4 linked regions of the Homo sapiens genome follow. The protein of the gene in region 3 interacts with the protein of the main gene of each other region in a pairwise test. Each region holds a gene or a part of one and is shown on either strand. Other genes may lie near its edges.

Evidence for each region.
Region 1: the proteins of PCYT1A (region 3) and FKBP7 interact in binary tests that used the Homo sapiens proteins (3 or more experiments, as listed by UniProt).
Region 2: the proteins of PCYT1A (region 3) and NMNAT1 interact in binary tests that used the Homo sapiens proteins (3 or more experiments, as listed by UniProt).
Region 4: the proteins of PCYT1A (region 3) and SDCBP interact in binary tests that used the Homo sapiens proteins (3 or more experiments, as listed by UniProt).

Annotation. Positions count from the first base shown.
Region 1 is NC_000002.12:178,468,591-178,475,618, reverse strand, and holds part of FKBP7 (peptidyl-prolyl cis-trans isomerase FKBP7 isoform a precursor), read left to right. Parts: intron 1-1,651; exon of another isoform or gene 1,652-1,764; intron 1,765-2,476; exon of another isoform or gene 2,477-2,590; intron 2,591-4,094; exon of another isoform or gene 4,095-4,182; intron 4,183-5,833; coding exon 5,834-5,967; intron 5,968-7,028. UniProt on the Homo sapiens protein: PPIases accelerate the folding of proteins during protein synthesis.
Region 2 is NC_000001.11:9,946,450-9,953,477, reverse strand, and holds part of NMNAT1 (nicotinamide/nicotinic acid mononucleotide adenylyltransferase 1), read right to left. Parts: exon of another isoform or gene 5,971-7,028; intron 2,907-5,970; exon of another isoform or gene 2,830-2,906; intron 2,248-2,829; exon of another isoform or gene 2,181-2,247; intron 1,140-2,180; exon of another isoform or gene 1,009-1,139; intron 1-1,008.
Region 3 is NC_000003.12:196,277,717-196,284,744, forward strand, and holds part of PCYT1A (choline-phosphate cytidylyltransferase A), read right to left. Parts: intron 5,823-7,028; exon of another isoform or gene 5,759-5,822; intron 1-5,758. UniProt on the Homo sapiens protein: Catalyzes the key rate-limiting step in the CDP-choline pathway for phosphatidylcholine biosynthesis.
Region 4 is NC_000008.11:58,570,261-58,577,288, reverse strand, and holds part of SDCBP (syntenin-1), read right to left. Parts: intron 6,403-7,028; coding exon 6,324-6,402; intron 5,085-6,323; coding exon 4,975-5,084; intron 1,390-4,974; coding exon 1,228-1,389; intron 1-1,227. UniProt on the Homo sapiens protein: Multifunctional adapter protein involved in diverse array of functions including trafficking of transmembrane proteins, neuro and immunomodulation, exosome biogenesis, and tumorigenesis.

The sequences.
Region 1 (7,028 bases), on a different chromosome or scaffold from region 3:
TTGGCAAAAGCATGGAAAAACCAGCATTATTGCTGGGAATGGAAATCATTCAACTTCTCTATCAACTGTTATCAAAAGTGAAAATGCAGGCCCGGGTGTGGTGGCTCATGCCTGTAATTCCAGCACTTTGGGAGGCTGAAGTGGGCAGATCACTTCAGGTCAGGAGTTCGAGACCAGTCTGGCCAATATGGTGAAACCCCGTCTCCACTAAAAATACAAAAATTAGCTGGGTGTGGTAGAGTGTGCCTGTAATCCCAGCTACTTGGGAGGCTGAGGCAGGAGAATCGCTCGAACCTGGGAGGCAGAGGTTGCAGTGAGCCAAGATTGCGCCACTGCACTCCAGCCTGGGCAACAGAGCGAGACTCCATCTCAAAAAAAAAAGTGAAAATGCACGTGCCTTCTTATCCAATAGTTCCATTTCCAGGAATGTGCACAAAGGTATATGTAAAAGAACATTCACTGCAGGCATTTTTGGGTGGGAGGGTGGCAAAAGGTTGGAAACCACCTGCCTATCCATCAATAGGAAATTAGTTAAATAAATTATAGTATATCTATACAATGAATTACTGTGTAACCAGTAAAAAGAATGAAGTAGAGCTATACTTATTAATATGTTAAAAATAAAGTGGAGGCCAGGCATGGTGGCTTCATGCCTATAATCCCAGCACTTTGAGAGGCTAAGGTGGGAGGATCACTTGAGCCCAGGAGTCTGAAAGCAGCCTGGGCAATGTAGGGAGACACAATCTCTACAGAAAATTAAAAAGTTAGCCAGGCGTGGCGGTATCCGCCTGTGGTCCCAACTACTCAGGGGGCTGAGATGGGAGGATCCCTGGAGCCTGGGAGGTCGAGGCTGCGGTGAGCTGTGATTGTGCCACTGCACTCCAATCTGGGCAACACAGCAAGACCCTGGCTCAAAAAAAAAAGTGGACAAGACTATATTCCACTTTTGGGATATATATTGAGCATCAGTGCCAGGCTTTGTTCTAGGCACTGGGCATAAAGCAGTGACCAAAGTAGACACTACTCCCAATCCTCTATGAGCTTTCATTTCAGAGGAGGAGTTTCACATATGCATGTATCTACACAGAATACATCTGGAAGAATATGCAGTCATCTGATGACATTAAGTGTTCCTGGGAAGGAGGCCTCAGGGTCAAGGATGAGAAGATTTCTTTTCACTCTAACATTTTGTACCATTTGAAAGTTTTATAAGGCATGTATTAATTTTTCCAAAATTAAAATTTTAAATTACAAAAATTGCATGTAGCAGAACAGAGAAGAAAATTTTTAAAGCAGGCAGGAGGATGGGCAGCCTGATAGGCTGTACCTTGCATCCTTAGTTAGGTTCTTGCTCCGTGTTGCTGCTTGAAGGCTATACAGAAAGAATCTTTGCCTCCTTACCCTATTTAGAGCCACTGCTGACTCCACCGGTTTGAAATAGTAAAGATTAATTTTCCACAATGAGATATTGGCATTGCTCCCAAATATTTCATGGAAGTGGCATGCCTTCTTTGAGGCAGTTGTCTTAGTCATTAAGAGTTCTTTCCAGCAAAATCGGGGCATCAGTGCCCCACACTGGATTGGCGGGTGGTGGGGGGGTGTCAGTGCTTTGAGTCAGACCCAGTCAGGCTTAAAACTCCTAAAGAGACAATTTCCAGATAACTTCAGCTTTATTTTTAATGCTTTTTGCCAATAATTTGATCCCATCAGAACAGCTCCCATGGTACCATAATTCATATATCCTGTTTTTATTTGTATAGGAACCTAGGAGAAAGAGAAGGAAAATTGAAAATAAATTAAGTCAAATGCAATACTTGTGCTAAAAATGTTGTCAAAAGTTGAGGCCACTTCTAGGCAAAATGTTGGAGGCAGAGTTTGCCTTTCAGTCTCTTTCTCATTTTCAAAGTTTTCCTTTCTGTCTTGCGTTGTGTCTTCAGATGCCTCCACATTCTGCCTACCACTAGAGCACCCACTCTCCTATCTGCCTAGAGCACACACATCTGTCATCATCAGGTGCTCATCCAGGGTTCACCGCCATCAGGCAAAGGACCACTTAGCTTATCTTTTTCATAAACTAATTTATGCTTAGATATGAATGACTACCCAGGCTGCCTAAGCTCTTAATAAATCAGAAACTTGCTGCAGAGATATAGAAGTTTGATGTGAAACAAGTTCATATTCAATTGGAGGTATCTCTAACAAACATTAAAGTGATTAATCTCACTAGTAATACCACCAGCACCCTCATTTTACAGAGTAAGAAACTGAGGCCCAAAAAAAGTGTTAATTGGACCATAGTTAATACTGACCTTGCCTGCGTTACATTAGGCATTGTAATCCAATACCTTGGATTACATTATTTTAAAAGTTGCAGTGTAGACCTTAAGTAACTGTTTAACAAACAACCTCTTGATTAAATAAGCATTTAAAAGTAAGTTGTTATTAAGACCTAACATTAGCTATAACTTTATTTTAGGTAGTACTTGAAGAAGTCTTTCTTCTGCAAAATATCCTTGTCTCATGTCACAGAACAACCCTGCATGTCTTGAAATGCATGTGACTTGTTAGTGCTTAAATAACAATACATGCGGTATGTATATATTCTTTACCTTAATTCCTACTTCTTTGATCTGCTTCTCTAAATATAAGTAATTCCGTAGCAAATGCATATTTTCCTCATTTTTATACTTTAGTTTTTTTTAAAAAAAAAAAAAAAACAAGAAAAAGAGGTAATTGGCAATATATCCTTTTTTTTTTTTTTTTTTTTGAGATGGAGTCTTGCTCTGTCACCCAGATTGGAGCGCAGTGGTGTGATTGATCTTGGCTCACTGCAGCCTCTGCCTCCCGGGTTCAAGCTATTCTCCTGCCTCAGCCTCCGAGGAGCTGGGATTACAGGCACACGCCACCATGCCTGGCTAATTTTTGTATTTTTAGTAGAGATGGGGTTTCGCCATGTTGGCCAGGCTGGTCTCGAACTCCTGGCCAGCCAGGCTGATCTCGCCCTCCTGGCCAGGCGCAGTGGTATAAGCCAAATAAGAATTGCTTGAACCTGGGAGGCAGAGGTTACAGTGAGCCGAGATCGCGCCATTGCACTCTAGCCTGGGTGACAGAGGAAGATTCTTGTCTAAAAAAAAAAAGTGGTATAAGCCACTGCGCCCGGCCAATATTTTCTATGTTTATAGCAAAATTGTTCAAAAACTGCATATGTACCTACAATATTTTTTCTTAAGAAATTCAAGTTTTGGGCTGGGCACAGTGGCGTATAGCTGTAATCCTAGCACTTTGGGAGGCCGAGGTGGGTGGCTCACCTGAGGCTAGGAGTTCAAGACCAGCCTGGCCAACATAGTGAAACCCCGTATCTACTAAAAATACAAAAAATAGCTGGGTGTGGTGGCTTGTGCCTGTAATCCCAGCTACTTGGGAGGCTGAAACACAAGAATCACTTGAACTCGGGAGGTGGAGGTTGCAGTGAGCCAAGATCGCGACACTGCACTACAGCCTGGGCAACAGAACAGATTCTGTCTCAAAAAAAAAAAAAAACGAAAAGAAAAGAAATTTGAATTTGTGTTTTGAGTTTGCCTTGAATTATTGTCAGGAGACAATAATTCTGTCATAAGGAGATAACTGGAAAAAATAGGAATGGGTTTTATAAAACAATCATTGACTCAATCTCTAGCTCTTCTACTCTAAAGTCAGGTAATATGTGGTGCATTAGGTTAGGACTTTTATGTTAGTCATATGATGCATGGGTAGATCTTTCTATGTTTTCTCTTTGAAAACTACTAATCTGCTACTCCTTTTGGCTATAACTCACAAACTCTTTTCTCTTCAGACTATATAAAGACTTTAGCTAGAATGCTTCACTTTTTTATTAAAGAAATTGCTGTTTCCTTCCAAGGACAAACATTTTAAAAATAAATGATATGGGTCATTCATTCGGCAAATATTGGACTGCCTGTAGTAGATTAGGCACTGTGTAGGACACTGGCAATATACTGATGACACAAGCTACCCGCTGCCCCTTAGCAAGTCATTTTTGCAAGTCACTTTTATGACATATTTATCTGAAATAGCCCATCACTTATTAAAATCACCTGTGACATCATGGCCTGGCACGGTGACTCACGCCTGTAATCCCAGCACTTTGGGAGGCCAAGGTGGGTGGATCCTTTGAGGTCAGGAGTTTGAGACCAGCCTGGCCAACATGGTGAAACCCCATCTCTATTAATAAAGTATAAAAAATTAGCCAGGATTGGTGGCAGGCACCTGTAATCCCAGCTGCTCGGGAGGCTGAGGCAGGAGAATTGCTTGAACCTGGGAGGCAGAGGTTACAGTGAGCCGAGATCGTGCCATTGCACTCCAGCCTGGGTGACAGAGGAAGATTCTTGTCTAAAAAAAAAAAAAAAATCTGTGACATCAGCTAATAGGTTAACTTAATTAAAGAGAGCAATTCTGGCCAGGCACAGTGGCTCACATCTGTAATCCTAGCACTTAGGGAGGCCAAGGCAAGCGGATCACCTGAGGTCAGGAGTTCAAGACTAGCCTGGCCAACATAGTGAAACCCCATCTCTACTAATAATGCAATGCCTGGTGTGCACCTGTAATCCCAGGTACTCAGGAGGCTGAGGTAGGAGAATGGCTTGAACCCAAGAGGCAGAGGCTGCAGTAAGCGGAGATTGCACCACTGCACTCCAGCCTGGGAAACAGAGTGAGACGCCGTCTCAAAAAAAATAAATAAAAATAAAAATAGGTATTCAACTTATTGCTTAAAAATGTATACAATTTCTTTGTAAAATTGTTACTGAATTTTTATTTTAATTCTTTTTTTTTTTAATAGAGACAGGGTCTCACTATGTTGCCCAGTTTGGTCTCAAACTCCTGGGCTCAAGTGATCCTCCTGTCTCGGTCTCCCAGAGTGCTAGAATTACACGTGTGAGCCACTGTGCCCAGCCTGTTACTGGATTTTTCTATCATTGCACTTATTTTTTAATGTCTATAAAAAATTTGAAAGACAAATATATTAATACTTATGTTTTATTTATGCTTCCAAATAACTACACAAAATCACTTTCTAAAAGATGACTCATCTATGCTTTGCAATTTTTCTGCCCATGCATTTCTTCTCTGTGCCACCTCTCTTCTGTGTTGATGATAGGAGAGTACAGTTGTCTCTCAGTACCTGTTAGAGATTGGTTCCAAGACCTTCTCATGGATTCCAAAATCCACAGAAGCTCAAGCCCCTGATACAAAATGGCATCACATTTGCACATAACCTCTGGACATCTTCCGGTGTACTTTAAATTATCTCTAGATTACTTATAATATCTAATACAATGTAAATGTTATGTAAAAGATTGTTATATTGTATTGGTTAGGGAATAATGACAAGACAAAAGTCTGTACATGTTTATTACAGACACAACTATCCTTTTTTTGTATGAATATTTTCAAGCCGAGACTGGTTGAATCCACAGATGCAGAACCCACAGATATAGAGGGTCATATCCATGCATTAATAAAAAGTTTATGATTTTTACTTAAATTAATCAAGAAATAGTGGTCCCATAGGTCCTTTGAATTGACTTGGTTTGGAAACATATGGAAAAAATATTCCTAAAAAAGTATTTATAAAAAAAAGAGAAAAAAAAACAAAAAAGAAAACTATTGAAAAGCCGAAAAAAGTTATAAAAGATGAGAAAAAATTAAAAATTGTGAGTATTCAGATAGCAATTCTTATCAACATGAAATAATATAATATGGTTATGGCAGTTCATGAATAGATATTTGAACTATATCTTTACATAAGTTAAACTGTTAAAATTTATACCCTTAGCAGAAGGCAAGATTCCACCGGATGCTACATTGATTTTTGAGATTGAACTTTATGCTGTGACCAAAGGACCACGGAGCATTGAGACATTTAAACAAATAGACATGGACAATGACAGGCAGCTCTCTAAAGCCGAGGTAATTCAAACCAATTTCATGTGTATAGTCTAATTTTTTTATCACAGTTTAAATACATCTGTGTTACAACTATTACTTTTTAGGTCTAGCTAGCATGGGCTCTGATCACTGCTTTTATAGAGCTGGTCACTAAAAAATAATCTAAGCGCTTAGAAAAAGCTCTAAGCTTTTTCAGTATAAACCTTGTGAGTCATCCTGTTCAATTGCCTTTCTCCCTGCAAGAGAGTCATTAAAATCCCGAATTATTTGTCTCTACAGTGCTCTTCCAGTTTCTAGATTACACTAGCATATCTCTTTTTCAGACAGCACTGTAAGAATTTGCAACAGGGCAAATAATTCACGCCTCATAGGATGATGAAAAGAGCTAGCAAGGGTCTGAATTGAGTGGGCTAGAAAGTTGGTAAACAGGAGCCAGAAGTTCAGCCAGCTAGCGTCTGTATCTCAGCCTTGTAATAAAGATCTTGTAATAATAATGATAATTGGGCTGGGCATGTGGCTCATGCCTATAATCTCAACACTTTGAGAGGCCGAGGTGGGAGGATTGCTTGAGCCCAGGAGTTCAAGACCAGCCTGGGCAACACAGGGAGACCCCCGTCTCTACAAAAGATTTAATAAATTAGCCAGGCATGGTGGTGCATACCTGTGGTCCCAGCTACTCAGGAGGCTGAGAGGTAGGAGGATCGCTTGAGCCCAGGAGGTTGGGGCTGCAGTGAGCTGTGATCATGCCACTGCACTCCAGCCTGGAAGATAGACTGAGACCTTGCCTCCAAAAAAAAAAAAAAGATAATAATAGATAACATTTATTTTATACTTTTAGTACCAGGTACTATTTATAAGCACATAAGTATGTGAACTTATGTAATCTTCATGATAGTTTATGGGGCAGACACTATTGTCATCATCTTCGCTTTTAGATGGGGAAAATAATAATCAGGTTAATCAGCCAAAAATCACACAGTAGTAAGGGGCAAAACCTGGGCAATCTGGCTTCATGACTGTTCTTACATTTCAATTTTTTAAATTTTTCTTAGAGACAGGGTCTTTCTCTGTTGCCCATGCCA
Region 2 (7,028 bases), on a different chromosome or scaffold from region 3:
AGAGTGAGACTCCGTCTCAAAAAAAAAAACAAAATTAGCTGGGTGTGGTGGTGCAGGCCTGTAATCCCAGCTACTCAGGAGGCTGGAGCAGGAGAATCACTTGAGCCTGGGAGGCAGAGGATGCAGTGAGCTGAGATGGCGCCACTGTACTCCAGCCTGGCAACAGAGCAAGACTCCGTCTCAAAAAAAAAAAAAAAAAGCCCGCGCACAGTGGCTCACACCTGTAATCCCATTTTGGGAGGCTGAGGTGGGTGGATCACAAGGACAGGAGATCGAGACCATCCTGGATAATGCAGTGAAACCCCGTCTCTACTAAAAATACAAAAAAAATTAGCCAGGCGTGGTGGCGGGCACCTGTAGTTCCAGCTACTCGGGAGGCTGAGGCCGGAGAATTGCTTGAACCTAGGAGGCAGAGGTTGCAGTGAGTCAAGATCACGTCACTGCACTTCCACCTGGGCGACAGAGCAAGACTCCGTCTCAAAAAAAAAAAACATGCATACAATCTATATCAAAGGAAAAATTAGTTTGCCCAGACTGGACATTTCTGTTCCACAGCAGGAAGGGAAGGAAACAAATTGCATTTAGGTTTGCATTCAAGAATCTGTTTCTAGCCGAGCGTGGTGGCTCAAATATGTTTCTAGCCGAGCGTGGTGGCTCACGCCTATAATCCCAGCACTTTGGGAGGCCAAGGTGGGCAGATCACCTGAGGTCAGGAGTTCGAGACCAGCCTGGCCAACATGGTGAAACCCTGTCTCTACTAAAAATACAAAAAATTACCCAGAAGTGGTGGTGCACACCTATAATCCCACCTACTAGGGAGGCTGAGGCAGGAGAATCACTTGAACCCAGGAGGCAGAGGTCACCGTGAGCTGAGATTGTGCCACTGCACTCCAGCCTGGGTGACAGAGTGAGACTCTGTCTTAAGAAAAAAAAACAAAAAAACAAAGAATATGTTTCTTTCTGAGATGATTAAACCTAAAAACTGATGCTGTTCCTCTGTCTTTTTAGGTTTTACTGTGCAGTTTGTTCAGATGGAGCCATTGCCACGGGCACTGAAGTGGATGTCTTCTGCATTTGGTGTGGGATCCTTCAGTTAAGGAGTCTGCACTATGGTGTTAACAGTTTTGGCAACAGACTGTGTATGTTTTTAAACAATGAATTTCTTTTTTTTTCTTTGAGACAGAGTCTCACTCTGTCACCCCAGCTGGAGTGCAGTGGCGCAATCTGTGCTTACTGCAAGCTCCGCCTCCCAGGTTCACGCCATTCTCCCGCCTCAGCCTCCCGAGTAGCTAGGACTACAGGTGCCCGCCACCATGCCCGGCTAATTTTTTGTATTTTTTTTTAGTAGAGATGGGGTTTCACTGTGTTAGCCAGGATGGTCTGGATCTCCCGACCTCGTGATCCACCCACCTCGGCCTCCCAAAGTGCTGGGATTACAGGCGTGAGCCATAAACAAAGAATTTCTAAAGGCTTATCTTAATCTGAAAGTTTGGCTGTAAATAATATGTCTTCAATATTTATTTTCTACTGACACCAAAAGAAGAGATATGTGGAGATGGAATACCTGATTAGGCACATGTCACAGTTAAAACATTTCACTGGGGAAAGTTTAAAAATTCTACAAGAGATTTTTGTTTTTGTAGGTGAATTCTACTTTACTAGAGCTTCGAAAAGTAGTTAAGATATTAATCAACAGTGAAACAGGCCGGGCACAGTGGCTCACGCCTCTAATCCCAGTACTTTGGAAGGCTGAGGCAGGCAGATCGATTGAGCCCAGGAGATGAAGACCAGCATAGGCAATGTGGAGAAACCCCATCTCTACAAAAATTACAAAAATTAGCTGGACCTGGTGGCACGTGCCTGTAGTCCCAGCTACTTGGGAGGCTGAGGCAGGAGGATCCCGTGAACCCAGGAAGTCAAGGCTCCAGTGAGCCATGCTCACACCACTGCACTTTGGCCTGGATGACAAAGCAACATCTTGCCTCAAAACAAACAAACAACAACAACAACAACAAAAAAAAACTGAAGCTGTTGGATTGGGTTTGGCACAGTATACAGCAAGACTTCTATTTCTTGCTAAATTGGCACCTTCATTTAAATCCTTGTGGCAAAACATTTTTAACACATTCTGATTAAAAGACAAAGTATTCCTCATAGCACCTTTTCTCTCTCAAATGTAGGAAACAACAACCCCTGAACTTTACTACTTGTCTGTGCTCCTGTCGGTGAGCAGCTTAACTTCTACAGGTAAGCAAGAAAACTTCCCAAGTAACCAATCCTTGTCAAAGGCTTACCAGTCCTTCGAGGCAAGTAACTACTCAACCAGCACTGTGACTGTGATGTTGCAAGGAGAATATTAAGCTCTAGTTCCTCTTTTTTTTTTTTTTTTGAAACAGAGTCTCACTTTGTTGCTTAAGCTGGAGTGCAGTGGCGTGATCTTGGCTCACTGCAACCTCCTCCTCCTGGATTAAAGCAATTCTTCTGCCTCAGCCTCCCCAGTAGCTGGAATTAAAGGTGTGTGCCACTATGCCTGGATAATTTTGGTATTTTTAGTAGAGATGGGGTTTCGCCATGTTGGCCAGGCTAGTCTTGAACTCCTGACCTCAACTGATCCACCCGTCTCAGCCTCCCAAAGTGCTGGGATTATAGCTGTGAACCACTGTGCCCACACCCTAGTTCCTCTTAAAGCAAGAGATCCAAGAAGCTAAGAAGTATGAAAAGCAAAGCAAAGAAAACGGGGGGAGGGGAGGGTTAGGATGGCATATGAAAAGCCATCCTTCTCACGTTACTTCCACTGCATTTAATGAGATCCTATTCTTTATCCTGTAGTGCTTTTGTCAGGCCTGGGGCTGATCTGGCGGGCCAGGGTGACCTGTCGAAGGCCAGATGCTAACCCAACAGTCTGAGCCATCTGGGTCCTGTTTTTCCTGTCTGAGATACTCGTCTCTACCAGGCTGGGCCTGTCCCAGCAGCACTGCCACCTATCGGCCATCACACGACCATCTCCTATCCTGCTATTTCAGCTGAACAGCAGGGCCAATAACAGGAAGCATGTCAAAATCAGTCATTTAGTAGAAAACTGCATTATGCCAGGCGTGGTGGTTCATGCCTATAATCTCAACACTTTGGGAGGCCAAGGCGGGCGGATCACTTGAGGTCAGGAGTTCGAGATCAGCCTGACCAACATGTCAAAACCCTGTCACTACTAAAAATACAAAAATTAGCCGGGCATGGTTGCAGGTGCCTGTAATCCCACCTACTTGGGAGGCTGAGGCAGGAGAATCACTTGAACCCGGGAGGCAGAGGTTGTAGTGAGCCGAGATTGCGTCACTGCCCTCCAGCCTGGGTGACAGAGCGAGACTCTGTCTCAAAAGAAAGAAAAAGAAAGCTGCATTTAAGTATTAATGAGCACTCACTGACAATGGATAAAAAGAAACAGTTCCGCTGAAATCACAGGACTGACATCATAACCCAATTCACCCCAAATAAAGATCTCCTATCAAATACTTTCACAATGATTATTGTGATTTTCTAAACCTCATTTTTTGTTCAATGAAGTTAAGTGGCATCAGCTGGGAGACTGCTATAGAAATAAGTGCTGAAAAAGAGGAAGGAAAATAGAAATCTTAGTAATGAACAAAGGTTTAGTTTCAAAAGACCCCAGTAATTCAGATTGTGTATTTAAACAAGGTCAATTTATTGCTTCTTTAAGAATGTAGTGGGGCCGGACACGGTGGCTCATGCCTGTAATCCCAGCACTTTGAGAGGCCGAGGTGGGCGAATCACTTGAAGTCAGGAGTTTGAGACTAGCCTTGCCAACATGGTGAAACTCCGTCTCCACTAAAAAAAACAAAAAAATTATATATATACACATACATATATATATATACACACACAAAAATTAGCTGGGCCTCTTGGTGTGTACCTATAATCCTAGCTACTCGGGAGGCTGAGGCAGGAGAATCGCTTGAACCCAGGAGGTGGAGGTTGCAGTGAGCAAAGATTGCACCACTGCACTCCAGCCTGGGTGACAGAGTGAAACTCCATCTCAAAAAAAAAAAAAAAAAGCAGTGGAAGATTTTAGAGTAAAAATAACCACAACCTCCCCCTTATAGATTATAACAATCTTCTGCATCATGACAGCTAATTGTTTTCTAGAGAAAATAGCTAAGTGACCTGCATTGTGTTTTGTCTTTCTCTTTTTTTTTTTTGAGACAGAGTCCTGGTCTGTTGCCCAGGCCGGAGTGCAGTGGTGTGATTTCGGCTCGCTGAAATCTCCGCCTCCAGGGTTCAAGCGATTCTGCCTCAGCCTCCCACGTAGCTGGGATTACAGGTGCCTGCCACCATGCCCGGCTAATTTTTGTATTTTTAGTAGAGATGGGGTTTCACTATGTTGGTCAGGCTGCTCTTGAACACCTGACGTCAGGTGATCCACCTGCCTCGGCCTCCCAAAGTGCTGGGATTACAGGCGTGAGCCACCATGGCCAGCCGTGTTTTGTCTTTTTACTTCAGTGTATATTTAACAATTCCGGGCCAGACACAGTGGCTGACGCCTGTAATCCCAGCATTTTGGGAGGCCAGGTGGGTGAATCACCTGAGGTCAGGAGTTCGAGACCAGCCTGGCCAACATGGTGAAACCCCGTCTCTACTAAAAATACAAAAAATTAGCCAGGCATGGTGGCGGGTGCCTGTACCAGCTACTTAGGAGGCTGAGGCAGGAGAATCACATGAACCCAGGAGGCGGAGGTTGCAGTGAGCTGAGATGGGGCCATTGCACTCCAGCCTAGGCAACAAGAGTAAAACTCTGTCTCAAAAAAAAAAAAAAATTCTGAAGTATTTTTGTTAGGGACTAGTTACTCACAAATGGTCCCAATGTCATTAAGGACTGGATACCACTTCATTTTGAGACAGGGTCTCGCTCTATCACCCAGGCTGGAATACAATGGCACAGTCACTGCAACCTCCACCTCCCGGACTCAAGCCATCCTCCCACCTCAGCCCTTACCCCAAGTAGCTGGGACTACAGGTATGCCCCACCAGACCTGGCTACTCTTTTGTATTTTTTTGTAGAGATAAGGTTTCACTATATTGCCCAGACTGGTCTCGAACTCCTGGGCTCAAGCAATCCGCCCACCTTAACCTCCCAAAGTGTTGGGATTACGAGCATGAGCCACCTCACCTGGCCGACAACTCCATTTCTTGAGAAAAAGAACAGTACTAATGGGCAAGAAGAACGTATTCAGTATAAAATCTCCCAAAGTATCTCTGACAGGCACAGCACCTGAACACATGGAAATGACTGTTCATCTGTTCTCATCTGGAGAGGTTACCTAATATATACCCACTATCCCTTGACGCCACCAACATTTTCGGACCACCTTCCACATCCCAGACACAGCACTAAGTTAGGAATTAGAAATGCGAGCAATCACACAATAAGAATGAAATTCCTTTGAAGTAATTATATTACCATGATTAACAGAAATTATTTAGAAACAACACATTCTCTAGACCTCATCAACCACTGCAGGGCTTTGAGCAGAGGAGTGACATGATCTGACATATTTTTAAGGATCTCTCTAGCAGTTGAAGCTGAAAACAGAATGTAGGGAGAGGCAAGGGTACAAGTGAAGACATAAGATGGGAGGCTACTGCAATAATCCAGGTGACAGGTGATGCTGACCTGGCCCTGATGGTGGTAGCAAAGTGATAAGATGTCACTCAATTCTGGGTGTATTTGGAACATACAGCCAATGTGATTTGCAATGGATGGGATGTGGGCTGTGAAAGAAAGAAAAGTCAAGCATGACTCCAAAAGTTTTTGGCCTAAGCAGCTAAAAGAACAGTATTACCTTTAATTGAGAAGAGAATGATAGTGAAGCATGATGGCGTGTGCCTGTAATCCTAGCTACCTGGGACCTTGAGAGCTTGTTTGGAGGTTCTAGCAGGGGAACGCAGCTACTTATATACCCTTGACCGAAGATTAGTCCTCCTCTATTGGGGATGGTCGTTCTCTTCGACTTGAGTGTGCAGCTTCGGGAGGGATATACATGGAGCAGTGAGGGAGGAAGGAGACACCGGCCTAGCCAGCCAGATCAGCCGGATCAACCCTGGTGATCAACGGGGTGAGAGATGTCACAGCCAGGTTGCCCTCACATCCTACTTGGGAGGCGGAGGTGGGAGGATCACCTAAGTCTAGGAGTTCAAGGCTGCAGTGAACCATGATCACGCCATTGCACTCCAGCCTGGGCGACACAGCAAGACCCTGTCTCCAAAAAAAAGAGAAGAGAAAGATGTCTATGGAGTAGGCTTGAGGGGACTATCAGGAGTTCAGTTTACAGAGAAGTGAAGTTTGAGACATCTATTATATATCCAAGTGGTGACAATAAGTAGGCAAGTGGAGAACAAAGCCAAGTTCAGGGGAGAGGTACAGACATACAACAGACTAGAGATTTGGATGTATCTGCATATAGATGGTGTATTTGTCTGCTTGGGCTGTCATACTAAAATACCACAGACTGGGTGACTTAAACAACAGAAATTTACTTTGTCACCATTCTGGAGACTAGAAGCCCAAGATCAAGGTTTTGGCCAATTTGGTCTCTGGTGGCAGCTCTGTTCCTGTCTTGTACATGGCCACCTTCTTGCTAGTCCTCACATAATCTTTCTTCAGTATGTAAGGGTAAGGGGCAAGCTCTCCATTCACTCTTCTGATAAGGACACTAGTCCTATCGGATCAGGGCCCCACACTTATGACCTCATTTAACCTTAATTATTTCCTTACTCCAAATACAACCACACCTAGAGTGACATCTTTGATTCTAAAAGTTCATGTTCTCACCCATTATGCAAGACTTACAATGGTACAAGCTATTTAAGGCAGACATTTAAAAGAGGCCCAAGTGTTCAGAGAGCCTTTGGCTCCTGGTACTTCTTGTTAGCCACTCAAGTTTCATCTGTCCCAGCATTTTCCCTACCTAGTTGGAGCAACTTGCGTTCTCTGGGCTCCCATCCCAAGACCAAGCTGA
Region 3 (7,028 bases):
AAAAATTAGCTGAGCGTGGTGGCATGCACCTGTAATCCCAGCTACTTGGGAGGCTAAGGCAGGAGGATCACTTGATCCCTGGAGGTGGAGGTTGCAGTGAGCCTAAATCGCACGCCACTGCGCTCCAGCCTGGGCGACAGAGCGAGACTTTGTCTCAAAATAATAATAACAATAATAAACTTTTACTCTGTAGGTCTCACAAGTTTTTTTCATTTTTTCCCGGCCTTCTTATGCCATCCCAATGTTCTCTCACATCTACTAACTTATAACCGCAGCACCAAAGCATACAGAATAATAACTGATGTTTAAAATCATGGAAAAAGGTACCCCCAGTCTCCCTCATGTTCCAATAGATGCTTGCCCGGACACATCACCTTTGCTACTGAGAAAGTGTAGAGAAAAGGTGTGTGGGAGGATGAGGGCGTACTGAAGACAGTAAATACATCCTAACATCGTGTTGGCTTCTTAATTTGTTACACTGAAACTTAGGTGTACCTAAAGCCACACCACCATTACAACATCGATAACTGCCCAGTAACCATTTGGAATACCTCCAACAATGAGGAACAATATTTCTTGGACTCTCAGTTTATGATAAGTGCGCCTCTGTCATCAACCAATACCATTCAAGTAAGGTACAGTGATGGCTCTGGAAAAGGAGGTGGCTTTAAATATCTACATTCAAAGGGGAAAAAAAATACACGCACACACACAGGCTGCCTTAATATCCCTGTTTGTCCAGCGGGCAATGGGACTGGGAAATGATCGCGCCTCCTCAGAGCCAATACAGTAGGAGGCGAACATGGGGCAGTGCATTACTCAATGCCCTGCAGACTGACCCTTAGGAATGAGACAGGAAGAAAAGTATTTGGAGATAGAATAGAGAACCTCCCTCAAGAGCCCTACTAGGATGGGCCAACACTTCCTGTTTGTTTAGTGGTTCATCCTCCAGAACACTTTCTTTGTCAAAAAGGCTATAACAGCCCAGTACAGTGGCTCATGCCTATAATCCCAGCACTTTGGGAGACCAAGGCGGATGGATTGCTTGAGCCCAGGAGTTCAAGACCAGCCTGGCCAACATGGCGAAACCCCATCTCTACTAAAAAGACAAATAATTAGCCAGGAGTGGTGGCACATGCTTGTAGTCCCAGCTACTTGGGAGTCTGTGGTGGCAGAATCGCTTGAACCCAGGATGCAGAGGTTGCAGTGAGCCAAGATCGTTCCACTGTACTCCCGCCTGGGTGACAGAGCAAGACCTCATCTCAAAAAAAAAAAAAAAAAAAAAGCTAGGCCAGGTGTGGTGGCTCACACTTGTAATCCCAACACTTTGAGAGGCCAAGGCGGGAGGATCACCTGAGGTCAGGAGTTCGAGACCAGCCTGGCCAACATGGTGAAGCCCGGTCTCTACTAAAACTACAAAAATAAGCTGGGCGTGGTGGCAGGTGCCTGTAATCCCAGCTACCCAGGAGACTGAGGCAGGAGAATCATTTGAACCCAAGAGACGGAGGCTGCAGTGAGCCATGATCATACCACTGCACTCCAACCTGGGTGACAAGAGTGAAACTCTATCAAAAAAAAAAAAAAAAAGGGCTGACAGCCAGAATACAGCAATTGTTAAGACCTGATCTTTCCAACTGCTGCCTATTCACTCCCTAGATAAGTCACCTTATCTTAATCACTGAAATTTGAGCACAGACTCTAAATATGGACATAAAAACCCATCCCCCAACACCCTGCCTGCTAAGTACATTAGTGTCTCCAAAGTGCCCTCGAAATACAGAATGCAGTATCTGTGCCTGTGATTTTTACTCCGACTCACAAAGACCTGGTTTGGTTTCTGCTGACTCACCTACCAGTACACACTGCTTGCCTTGTTCCTCCACGTTCCAACACATGCCTGCTGAGGCACATCAGCTTTGCTAGACAAGTGGAAGATGTGTTTGTGGAGGGAGGGGTGGCACTGAGGAGACACTAAGGATACAGCTAGTCATATTTTTCCAATGTGAATGTCCTGAAGGAGACAGAATCTAGGTGCTGGCATGTCTATGCTTGAGTCTGAAAGATGATAGGCTCCTACAAGTAGTTTTAGGGACTCCTATCCAGTCCTTTCTTTTTTTTTTTTTTTTTTTTTTTTTGAGACAGAGTTTCACTCCTGTTGCCCAGGCTGGAGTACAATGGCACGATCTCAGCTCACCACAACCTCCACCTCCCGGGTTCAAGCAATTCTCCTGCCTCAGCCTCCCGAGTAGCTGGGATTACAGGCATGCACCACCACGCCTGGCTAATTTTGTATTTTTAGTAGAGATGGGGTTTCTCCATGTTGAGGCTGGTCTTGAACTCCTGACCTCAGGTGATCTGCCCGCCTCAGTCTCCCAAAGTGCTGGGATTACAGGCGTGAGCCACCGCACCCGGCCTATCCAATCCTTTCTATTCAACTTCCTTATTGCAAACAGACCTACCAAGGGAAAGAGGAGTTGGACTTTGCTTCCTGAACTATGTAACAATCTAAATATAGCAGAGTCCTCTCTTATCCACAGGGGAAATGTTTCAAGACGCCAGCAGATGCCTGAACCCCTAGAGAGTATGGACCCTATATGGACAGTTGTCCCTCAGAATCTGCAGGGCACTGGTTCCAGGATCTCCTGCAGATGCCAAAATCCACAGATGCTCAAAAGTCCCTTATATATATAAAACGGTGTCGAATTTGCATATAATCTATACCCCCTATATACTTTCAATCTTCTCTACATTACTTACAACACCTAATACAATGTAAATACTATGTAACCAGTTATTATACAATATTGGTTTTTTATTTGTACTGTTTTTTATTGTTGTATTGGTATTTTTATTGTTTTTTTTTTTTTTTTTTTCTGAATATTTTCGATCCAAGTTTGGCTGAATCTGCGGATGTGGAGCCCATGGCCACGAAGGGCTGACTCTACTTTGTTTTCTCCCTATATACACAGAGCTATGATAAAGTTTTATTTATAAATTAAGCACAGTAAGAGATTAACAGGAATAACTAATAATAAAACAATTATAACAATATACTGTAATAAATGTTATCTGAATGTGGCTGTTCTCTCTCACTCTCAAAATATCTTACTACATCATACTCACCTATTTTCTGACCGTGGCTGACTGTGGGTAACTGAAACCACGGAAAGTAAAACTGCGACTAAGGGTGAGCTCTTGTAGTAGCAAGTTGCAATTACATATGCTATTCCACATTTCAAAAATCTAACTCAAACTTGACCAATTACTACAAGGAACTATTTGCAAAAAGATGAGGCATAATTTTTCCTTTGCACTCTATTCCTGCCTTCCCCATCTCTAGGCCTACATTATCTTCCCCACTAAAACCCAATGCCCAGTATTTTTCTATCAGCATATCAATGCCCAGTTCCAAAGCCGAGTGCGCAAGCAGACTTTACATTTGGGATGTTTCTCTGCTTCTACCGTGGTGGTGCTTAATGAGCTGGTGCTCTAAGAGGCAAGCTCTGGAAACTCAAGGGTTAAAGTGCATCTAATATTCCTGGCATTCATTAATCCTATCATCTTGCTGTACACTCAGGTCTTTCTGGAGATAACAGTGTAAGGACATTGCCCCCTATGTAAAGGCCTTTGAAGCTTGAAGGAGTATATGGCTAAGCGAAAGTAGGGAAAAGAGCTGGACTCAAGAACCAGAAAATCTAGATCAGGGGTCAGCAAACTACAGCTAGCTGGCCAAAGATGGCCCACTACCTGTTTTTGTAATTAAAATTCGATCAGAACACAGCCATGTTCACTCACTGATGTGTTTATTGTCCATGGCTGCTTTTGTGCTACAACAGCAGAGCTGAGTAGTCACAGATACTGTGTGACCTGCAAACCCTAAACTATTTACAATCTGGCCCGTTACTGAAAAAGTTTGCTACCTCTCATCCTAGATGAAATCAGGACCAGCTTTATTAATAATTTGGTGGCAAATTCTACCTAAATTTACCCAATCTAAAGTGAAAAACAGTGTTAGAAATAGAATTATTTCGAGTACAGTGGTGCAATCATGGCTCACTGCAGCCTCGAACTGCTGGGCTTAAGTGATCCTCCTGCCTCACCCTCCCAAGTAGCTAGGACTACAGGCACATGCCACTACACCCAGCTAATTTTTTGTAGAGATGGGGGTCTCACTTTGCTGCCCAGGTTGGTCTCAAACTCCTGGCCTCAAGCAATCCTCCCACCTCAGCCTCCCAAAGTGCTGGGATTATAGGTATGAACTATCACACCAGGCTGAGAACTTATAAATGTAAAAGTGAATTTCAAAACATGAGCTTCTCTGACAGATTAGTTCTAAACTAAAGTTCAACGTTACTTGTCATGAGCCCTATAAACTGTCACATTTAAGACCTTAGCTTTGAACTGGATCTCTTCCCTCTAATTTCGTCAGAGAAACCCTTATTCAACAAACACTGAGCGGCACTTACTCTGTGCCAGACCCTGGGTTAGCCACTGGCACACATAATAAAGCTTATACTTCTTCGGCCTGGACATGTAGTAGAATATTTCAGGAAAGAAAAAACCATGAGGGACACATGTAATAGTTCTTACAGTTGAACAATTTTACTCTGCCACTATTCTACCAGAATATTTGGTGAGTAAACTCTTGTGTTTAGAATGTGATCTTCCTAGAGTGGGTTATGGAACTCATATCTCTGAGGCAGGGTCTATGATAGAATTCAGGAAGTCTGTGAATTTGGATGAAAAAGACTGTATCTTTATTTTCACTTCAGTGATGAACATAAGCTACAGCAGTAATAGCAGACTTATTAGACAAATGGATTTGTTACCAGTAGAAATCATGGATATTTTCATACCATATCATACTTCTTAAATTTTGATAACTATATATCAATATAATTCAATATAACTGGTTTTCTTTATAGTTCTATGTATTTTATTTTTGCATATAAAAACATATTCCAAAAAGGAACTCTAAAAGCTTTCACCACACTGCCAAAGGAGTCCATAACACAAAAAAGATTAAGATTCCTGTTCTACGGTCAAAAAATAAAGAAACATAATCACATTTAGGGTAATTTTCTGTATATAAAAAAACTACCTGTTTTTTATTAAGGGTCATATGCTCATTTTCTATAGAGCAGGGACCATATGTCATTATTTTTGGCAGCCTTCACTTCAAAACTGGTTTGCAAGTAGTTGTGAATGTGATATAACAGCCTAGCAGATTCATGGGTTCCCCTGGCTCACTGGCAGTCATCCTAGTCCAAACATAGAAAGCCTCAAACTAATATAACTTTCAACTTGTGGTACAAGAGAATTCCCAAAAGAAAGCAAGGGGCAAGGCACAGTGGCTCACGCCTGTAATCCCAACACTTTGGGAGGCCGAGGCGGATGGATCACTTGAGGTCTGGAGTTTAAGACCAGCCTGGCCCACATGATGAAACCCCGTCTCTACTAAAATACAAAAATTAGCTGGGCGTGGTGGCGGGCACCTGTAATCCCAGCTGAGGCAGGAGATCGCTTGAACCCAGGAGGCAGAGTTTGCAGTGAGCTAAGATTGCACCACTGCATTCTAGCCTGGGCAACAAGGCAAGACTTGGTCTCAAAAAATAAATAAATAAATAAATAGAAAGAAAGGAGGGAAAAGACACACACAGAAAGCCTGCTATTAATATATATCTATTAACCTGGTTTACGAATGGTAAAATACAGGTAATTCAATTATTTACATTAATGAATAAGGTAGGTAACAAACCTAAAAGAATGCCAAATATGAGACTCATTTCTTTTTATCTTCTGAGGTGGCGCTTCGGCACATGCTGCAAACGTAAAAAGGTACATTCCTTGAATTTACTGGCTAAATTGTAGAAAGGAATTAGGATTTAAATTCTGCCACAAATAATCCACAAAGCAATTAACAAAACAAATCACAGATGAAACATGTGTTTAAGTACTCATTTGACAGGAATACTGTGAAAAGAGAGGTTTAGGACTAAAAACAGAAAGGTTTACGCTTAGGAAAGAGGTTCAAGGACTTAGGGAAAAGGAGATGCCAGAAGCTGCCAAGCAGATAAGCAGGAGGGTTGACAAGGCCTAAAGTGCTGATCCCCTCACTCTCCCAAGTCACCCCTTTTTCTAATATGCTTGATGTGTGATAATGTCAAAGATGTACAAGCAGCCAGCCACAATCTTGAGCAAAAAAGGGACTCTCACAGTCCTGTGATAATTGGCAAGTGCCCTGACTTTAGGGTTTCTCCAACTGGAAACAAATCCAAGAAAAAAATGACTTTTACAAAAATGTATTCTTTCCAATCTATTTCAAGGTAACACAAACTTTGATGTAAGGGAGACCTATTTCTGCTTGATTCAGAAAGGGAAATTTCTATTAGTAGAAAAATCAGAAGGTCTGCTTCAGATCAGTTATGTAAATACTTAGAAAAGCATGATGCTTAAGTAAGAACTCTACTATTATTAGCAGATATTTTGCTATTATCCATCATTAATAACAATGGAAAATTATGCTTTTTATTTGAGCATTTCAAAAACTAATTCTCATCAGCACTTATAACATCTCTAGGAGAGGTTATTCAGCTCCCTAGGGAAATACTGTCTAACTTAAAGGCCAGACAGCTCTGAATTATAAATGGAGTCAGATGGTTTACAAACTCTATGAAATTACATACAAAATTTGGTAAGTTCACATATATTTCAGATTATTAAAGGGCTGTTTAATCATAAGAAGAGTTACCTCTGGCCATGGTTAGAAAATCTACAACAAGAGAAAGCAATAATGCTTTCCATACATAGTCACAGGGCGAGTAAATGTTAACATCGGAGAAAGTCACCAGGGACTGCTAAGTCCAGGCTCTATCTGACGAGGTCATTCTTCTTAAGGGATCACATATCCAAAAAGCAGGTCCCCAGGGAAAATAAAACCCCACTGCTTATGGGAGGAGAGTCATAGACTGAGGGGGAATGAAGCTCATTCTTTATCAACCAGGCCATCATGCTAGTTTTCAAAGGGA
Region 4 (7,028 bases), on a different chromosome or scaffold from region 3:
AAGTGCATCTACTTCTACAATCCTAAGCTAGGTCACATATTTCTATCACACATCTGTTACATTGTAGAATGATAAGCAAGAACTAGGTAGCACCCCATAAATGAACAAATGCCCTTTGGCCAAGTGAACAAATCCACTGCAACTATTACCTACAGTGGGGCCAAGGGGCCTATGAAAAGTATCTTTTCTCTTTAGGACAGAGGAAAGAACACAAGAGCAATCCTGGCGGAAGGAGCAGCAGTATACTCTATTCCCTGAAGATTCTGGAGAAAGGGCAGCAAAGTCAGAGCATCCCAACTAAGCACGCAGATGTATTTTGAGTGACATACAAGTGAGCAAGGCCATCATCGATGGCCTCAGCCCCCTGGGTGGGCAGGCAGGGCGGGGGCCTCCTGCCAAGATCAGCCTCCTCCATTTACAGCAGTGCACCACACTTATAATTTTCTATGTGGAAAGGCTGGATGCACTAAGCTAGAGATGTATGACTGAAACCGAATCCAATAAGGTAATGGCTAAAACTATAAATTGGGGTAAAGACTCAACATGTCCTTCACAATTATAAATGGTTCCTCAGAGAGTAACCCTGTTTCATATCTTCAGTATGTTAAGGTGAGAGGTAATTATAAAGTAAAGGCTGCCCTAATTAGAAAGAATATTCCATCTTTTTTTACTCAGAAAATGACATATTAAATTCAAATGTGAAGGATGTTAATAACAAATCTGCAAAAACCATCTCACCAGTTAAATACTGATCATTTGGTTTAAAAATGCACACACATCCGGGAGGCAGAGGTTGCAGTGAGTCAAGATCACACCACTGCACTGCAGCCTGGCGACAGAACGAGACTCCGTCTCAAAAAAAAAAAAAAAAAGGCACACTGACATTGACTCTCATTGGAAAGTTTTTTCTTAACCTTCACATCTGCTCTATTTAATTGCCACAATTCTATTATACAAACTATAATATATGTAGGCCAGTGAAATGTATTCCAGTTAGAATATTCAGAAAAGAAACATCTTTCAAAGTAATGTGGTCAGAAGTCCCAACTATGCCTCTGCAAAATAGAACATCCCCAATTGAAAACATTTAAGTTAGTAGATTTAAAATATTCTCAACTACAGATGCACTATTATAATTAAAGCATTTCCATTTCAAATTATTTTAACATTAATCACTTATTATGTAAGAGATTTAGACAAATTCAAATAGGTATTTAAAATACTTACATTATCTATTGATTTAAGCCTGAGTCCAATTTTTCCATCTTGATCCTTACACAAAATGACTTCACGAATCCCTTGCTTAATTTCTGCTCTACGAATTCCAACATCATTACCAGTTACAGGAGCCACCATATAGTTTATACTGGAAGGTCTTGCTACCAACTGCTGACAAAACCATATACAATGTGTCAATATCTAGAAACACTCTCCTTGAAAAAAACAATGATAATTAACTGGAACTTACTCAGTTTTGGCTTTCCAAAAAGCAATCCACAAATAATTTCCTTCCGATAAAGTTTGATGTCTATGAAAATGGCACTGGCTCTACTACTAATTCTTCACTAACTTATTCCCACACATATCATCTCTAATAGATTCAATGACTCTCTGTTGCCCTTTGAATTCACTGGCATTTGTTTCACCGGTATACTGGCTTGTCTTCATCTCAAATTTATTATCTTTGAACTTAAAGGCCATATACTTTTGAAACATTTTCCAGACGGTTCATGATGTCACGATCTTTGACAATCTACTTATCCTTTCAGAATTTCCATAAAAGGGGCAAATTTCTTACCTCACTGTTACTGACAGGATTAAATGAAAAGTGCATGTTGTATGGGCACTGGCACACATAAGACAGTCAACTATTATGTCTCTTCCCCTCTAGTAACCATCTATGGATTAACAAATCATATGCACAAACCAGAATGCCCCAGAATACCTACATTAGGGACCTGTGTCATATACCATGTTTCAAGTTTCTAATTCTTTCCAGTTTTCCTAATCAAAACTGGTTTATTTTAAGTGGAACCTTTCCCCAACCAAAAAGAAAATGGAATAATATTAGGCCACTAAAAAAAGGAAATCCTGCCATTTGGACAACATGAATAAATGTAGAGAATATTATTCCAAGTGAAATAAACCAGACACAGAAAGACAAGTACTGTCTGGGTCCCACTTATATGTGGAATCTGAAAAGAGTCAAACTCACAGAAATAGAGAGTAGAAGGAAGGTTGTCAGGGGCTGGGGTTGGGCAGGGCAAAGAATGAGAAAAATGTTGGTCAAAGTGTACAAACTTTCTCAGTTATCATATGAGTACGTTCTGGAGATCTAATGTACAGCATAGTAACTATAATTAATAATACTGTACGGTATACTTGAAAGTTGCTAAGAGTACATCTTAAGTGTTCTCACCACACACCAAAAGAAATGTAACCATGTGAGATGACAGATACGTTAATAACCCTGACTGTGGTAATCATTTCACAATGTGTGTTTGTGTGTGTTTATCAATACATCAAGTTGTATTGATATATACAGTTGAATATATACAATTTATATTTGTTAATTATACCTCAATAAAGCTGGGGAGAGGAAGATCCAGATGGAACATCAAGAGAAGAAGAATAAAATATGTGAAATGAAAAATTCACTAGATATGAAGAGATAACAGAAATCTCCAGCAACAAATTAATTTAAAATAGAACAGAAGAAAAATAAAAGGCGGCGCACTGAAGAACCCTGGAGATGCAGACACAAAAATGAAGGTTATATCACCCTTCTAGGTATTTGGGCAAAGGGATCTAAGCATCCATGTAGTGAACAAAGGAAGTTCTAAATTTTAACTACAGCCTCATGATCAGTTACTAAAATAAGAATCAGAGCAGCTATGACTCTGTTCTTCTTTGTATTTGTATATTTTCTGTAAATACAGCAATTAATCTTTCTGTTCCTCTATACCTCTTTTTACCTTTATGTATGAATTGTTGGTAGTGGTTAACTTTACACTTTTGCCTTTAAATTAAAAATATTCTGTTGGGAATGTGAATACTTAGAAGGGTAATTAGTATCATATAGTAATCAATACCATGATGACTGCCCAGAGATGGCCACATTAACTGGTATCATCCCTTTCTAGAGAAAGGGTGAGAGCAACTTCATTTATATTGAAGGGTACATGGCTTCATTTTGTACACCCCTGAGTTAAAAATGATTTTTATATTTTTAAAGATTGTAAATAAACAAATAACAATAAGAATATGTGATAAAGATCATAAGTGACCATGAAAGCCTAAGGTATTTATTATGGAGCCCTTTATAAAGTTTGAACTTTGATTTTATGAAGAAATTCATCTTTCAAGGAGAAACTATAAAGTTGTTGTTGTTGTCACATGAAATTCAAATGTTTGTACAAGTGTGTGGATATACTGAGTAGTCAAAGGAGTAGGTGGTAACAGATATTAAACTACTGTTTGTCAGCTCCAAATCCACCCTTCTAGACTCTACTTGGTGATGCTGGGCCTAACTGTGCAAATTATAATTTCGTTTGTCAGTGACTGGAATGACAAGCACCTCATTCCTTCCTGTGTGCCTCCTGCTCCTGTCAGTACTGTGTAAGCCTGGCCCTTTACACTGGCAGCAGCAGTTGGTTCCAGTCTGCAACTTTTACTGACACTCCCAGAACCAGCCTCATTACAACCCCTCAGAGGCACTAGTAGTGTCCCCTCATCCAAGGTCTGAGTCCCAGCTCCGTGGGGCTCTTCCTCAAGCTTCTAGGTTCTGCTAACTCCAATCTCTCTCCTGTGTTATCCCAGTCCTAGGAGAAGCAGCTAGCTATCTGCAATTACATCTATGTCCATTTATGTTTTTTTCAATTTTTCAACCTCTTAAAATACCTACTATTATTTGTTTTCCCAACTGCATCACCACTAACACAAGCAAGTTTTCAATAAATATTTGGTAAATACATAAATGCCAGGTACTGTATATGCATTGGGATATGGCAACAAGACAGACACAGATTTAACTACAATTATAATAAGTGGTACAAAGTGCTATGGTCATAGCAATAACCTTAATAAAAGGTTATCAGACCCATTATAATTAAGCTAGACTCTGGAGTCTAATTACATGGAGCTTTGAATTTCAAAAAGAATGTTAAAAGATTAAGAGCAAAGGCCAGGCACAGTGGCTCATGCCTGTAATCCCAGCACTCTGGGAGGTCGAGGCAGGTGGATCACCTGAGGTCAGGTGTTCGAGACCAGCGTGGCCAACATGGTGAAACCCGGTCTCTACTAAAAATACAAAAAATTAGCCAGGCATGGTGGCGCGCGCTTGTAGTCTCAGCTACTTGGGAGGCTGAGGCAGGAGAATTGCTTGAACCCAAGAGGCGGAGGTTGCAGTGGGCCGAGATCACGCCATTGCACTCCAGCCTGGGTGACAAAGTGAGACTATGCCTCAAAAAAAAAAAAAAAAAAAAAAAAGATTATGAGCAACAAAGATATGATAGACCTATATGTGTATTTCAGAATGATTAACTTAGCAGCGGCTTAGTACTGTCTGAAATAAGTTACTAGAGGAAATTTAAGAGAGTACTATAATAATGAAGGCTAGAAGTATAGAAACCCTGAATATGGTTATAGTAGGACTAGAATGGATAAAAAACAGATAAAATGAATACAAGAAACAGAAACAGAATCAATAGGACTTAGTAACTGACTAAATGCAGAAGACAAAGGAGAACGAACTAGTAAAAGGTATCTGAATCTAAGTCCTAATAAACTCAAAACAGTGTAGCACAAAATGAAGTAGACTATATAAGAAATGATATCCAAAAGGAAGTCTAAAATTTCTGAGAAGTGAGGTTCAATGCTAGTAGTATATCTGTGAGTTAGCCACAAAGAGGAAAGCTTATACTAACATGTAAAGTATGATTTTATATAAATCAAAATTAATTACACTATACATACCCCCTGAAGTGGTGCACCAGAAACCACGGCCACATTTGCACGTATTTCTTCTTCATTTAAACTCAGCCCCATGTATTGAGAGAGCTCTGGATACAGTCTGGGATAGAGATCTAAAAAGTAAATGAATAAATTAAAAAGCACTTACAGAATACACAAAATGAAAACTTCTCTCATTATGGGCTTCTGCGTATTAACAAAATTACACTTAAGTTATAAAATCTAGAATGAATTTAAAGTAGCAATTTGGAAAGGCATCTCCCCATCTCTGTAATAATGAGAAATGGAAAATACAGAAAATGTTTAAAATTCGTAAAATATGAAGACATCTGAACTGAAACAACCAGAGATTCCTAAACACTCAAAAGTAGAAATAACTTTTCCAAATAAACTATCTTGCCTTTCCTGTTTCTTAAAATAAACTTACTTGATTAGGAATTTAGTAAGAATGCCACTGATTCTCCAATTCAGAACAACTGACCAAAATATCTATTTGTCAAGTCAGCTACTTTATAACTCATTCTGTAAACAGGGATATGGAATGATTCTTATGAACAATTTTTTTTGGAAGCTTGTAAATTTATTTAGTGTCTTATCATTTTAATAATTTTAACCACATTCCAATGAAATCCTGGAAATGGTATTTTTAAATATTAACATTATTTCACTTATTAGTAGTTATATACTATTTCCAAAAGCTCTTTTTTACATGAGACTTAAATTATCTGTGACTTAAAATGAATTTTCTATGAGGCACAATGTTATAAACTGTTGTAAGACAAAATGACAGGCCACAAAAACTTATTTAACACTTATTTTGTATCTTAAGTCATAGTATTTAGGAGCTCTGTCCTGAATCCCTCTGAACCTTGAAGAAAAAGGGACCAAAGACAGGATACAGAGAATGAATAAAGGCCTTAAGATTTAGGAGGCTTCCCAAAGAGGAGGTGGTTGGAAATTTCAGAAGCTCCCATAGGAAAGACAGAAGACAATTCAGAAAGTTCAACAGCAGCAGCATGATAGTTCTTAAATGTGAATTCATATAGTTCTCATATGTGAATTCATATATATAATTCATTCATAAATGAATCAGCCACGTTAGGGATTTACAAGTCAGTCTAAAATTAATTTTCATTAAGCCATGAAATACATCCCCATATCCACAGTTCACTATCTTAATTAGAAAAAGGGTTATTTTTTGAAGTAAACTTTTTTTTCTTATTCATAACTATTTGAGCTTAACTACCAATTTTATGCAGCCTGTCCAAAAAAAAATCTTGGATTCCTTATATGAGCAAAAGAAGATAACAATATTTCTGTTCACAGAGAATGAACTCAAAGTATAAACCTACTTCCATCGTGAGGGATAGGAGCAGAAGCTTCTGACAAAATTGCTGGATTGGCAGGGTTTGCAGAAAAAGCAGTTTGAGCCTGAAAAAGAAAAGAAGAAAATTCTAACAATATGCTATACTTACTTTATATTCTTATATAATTTATAAGCTAAATCCAGTACTTCCAAAAAGAAACTAAAACAATGAAGATTTATGTAAGAAAGTTTAATTTCAAACACATCAGCAATACATTTTCCAAAGGAAATCTGCAAATCAAAACTATATTTGATATTCTAAATACTTTTAAGGCTATCACAAAAAAATTGTAGAAGTACCATTCTACATGTCTTATAACCAGCACTTCATAGTGCTGCCACAATAAATTAATATTTTCAAAGTGCATTCTAAAATGAATAAATTTTACATTTTCATTATTCTTTTACTAATTAGTCCAAGTAAAAATATTTTATTTGCATAAGAAAAAACCTTACCCATATTCATATAAAAGTCACATATCAGAAAAACACCTAAAAAATTAATACTAAGCATGTCCCACTGAAATCATCTTTATCTTCATTGCAGCAAGTATAGGAAGGGGTTTATGCTAAATACTTTTAAAATATCAGAAATTATGAAAATAGCACAGTTTATCACTGACATAAATCGATGATGACAAGGTAATGTAATTTGTAACTGTTAAACAAACTTGCCAAAATCACTCTGACA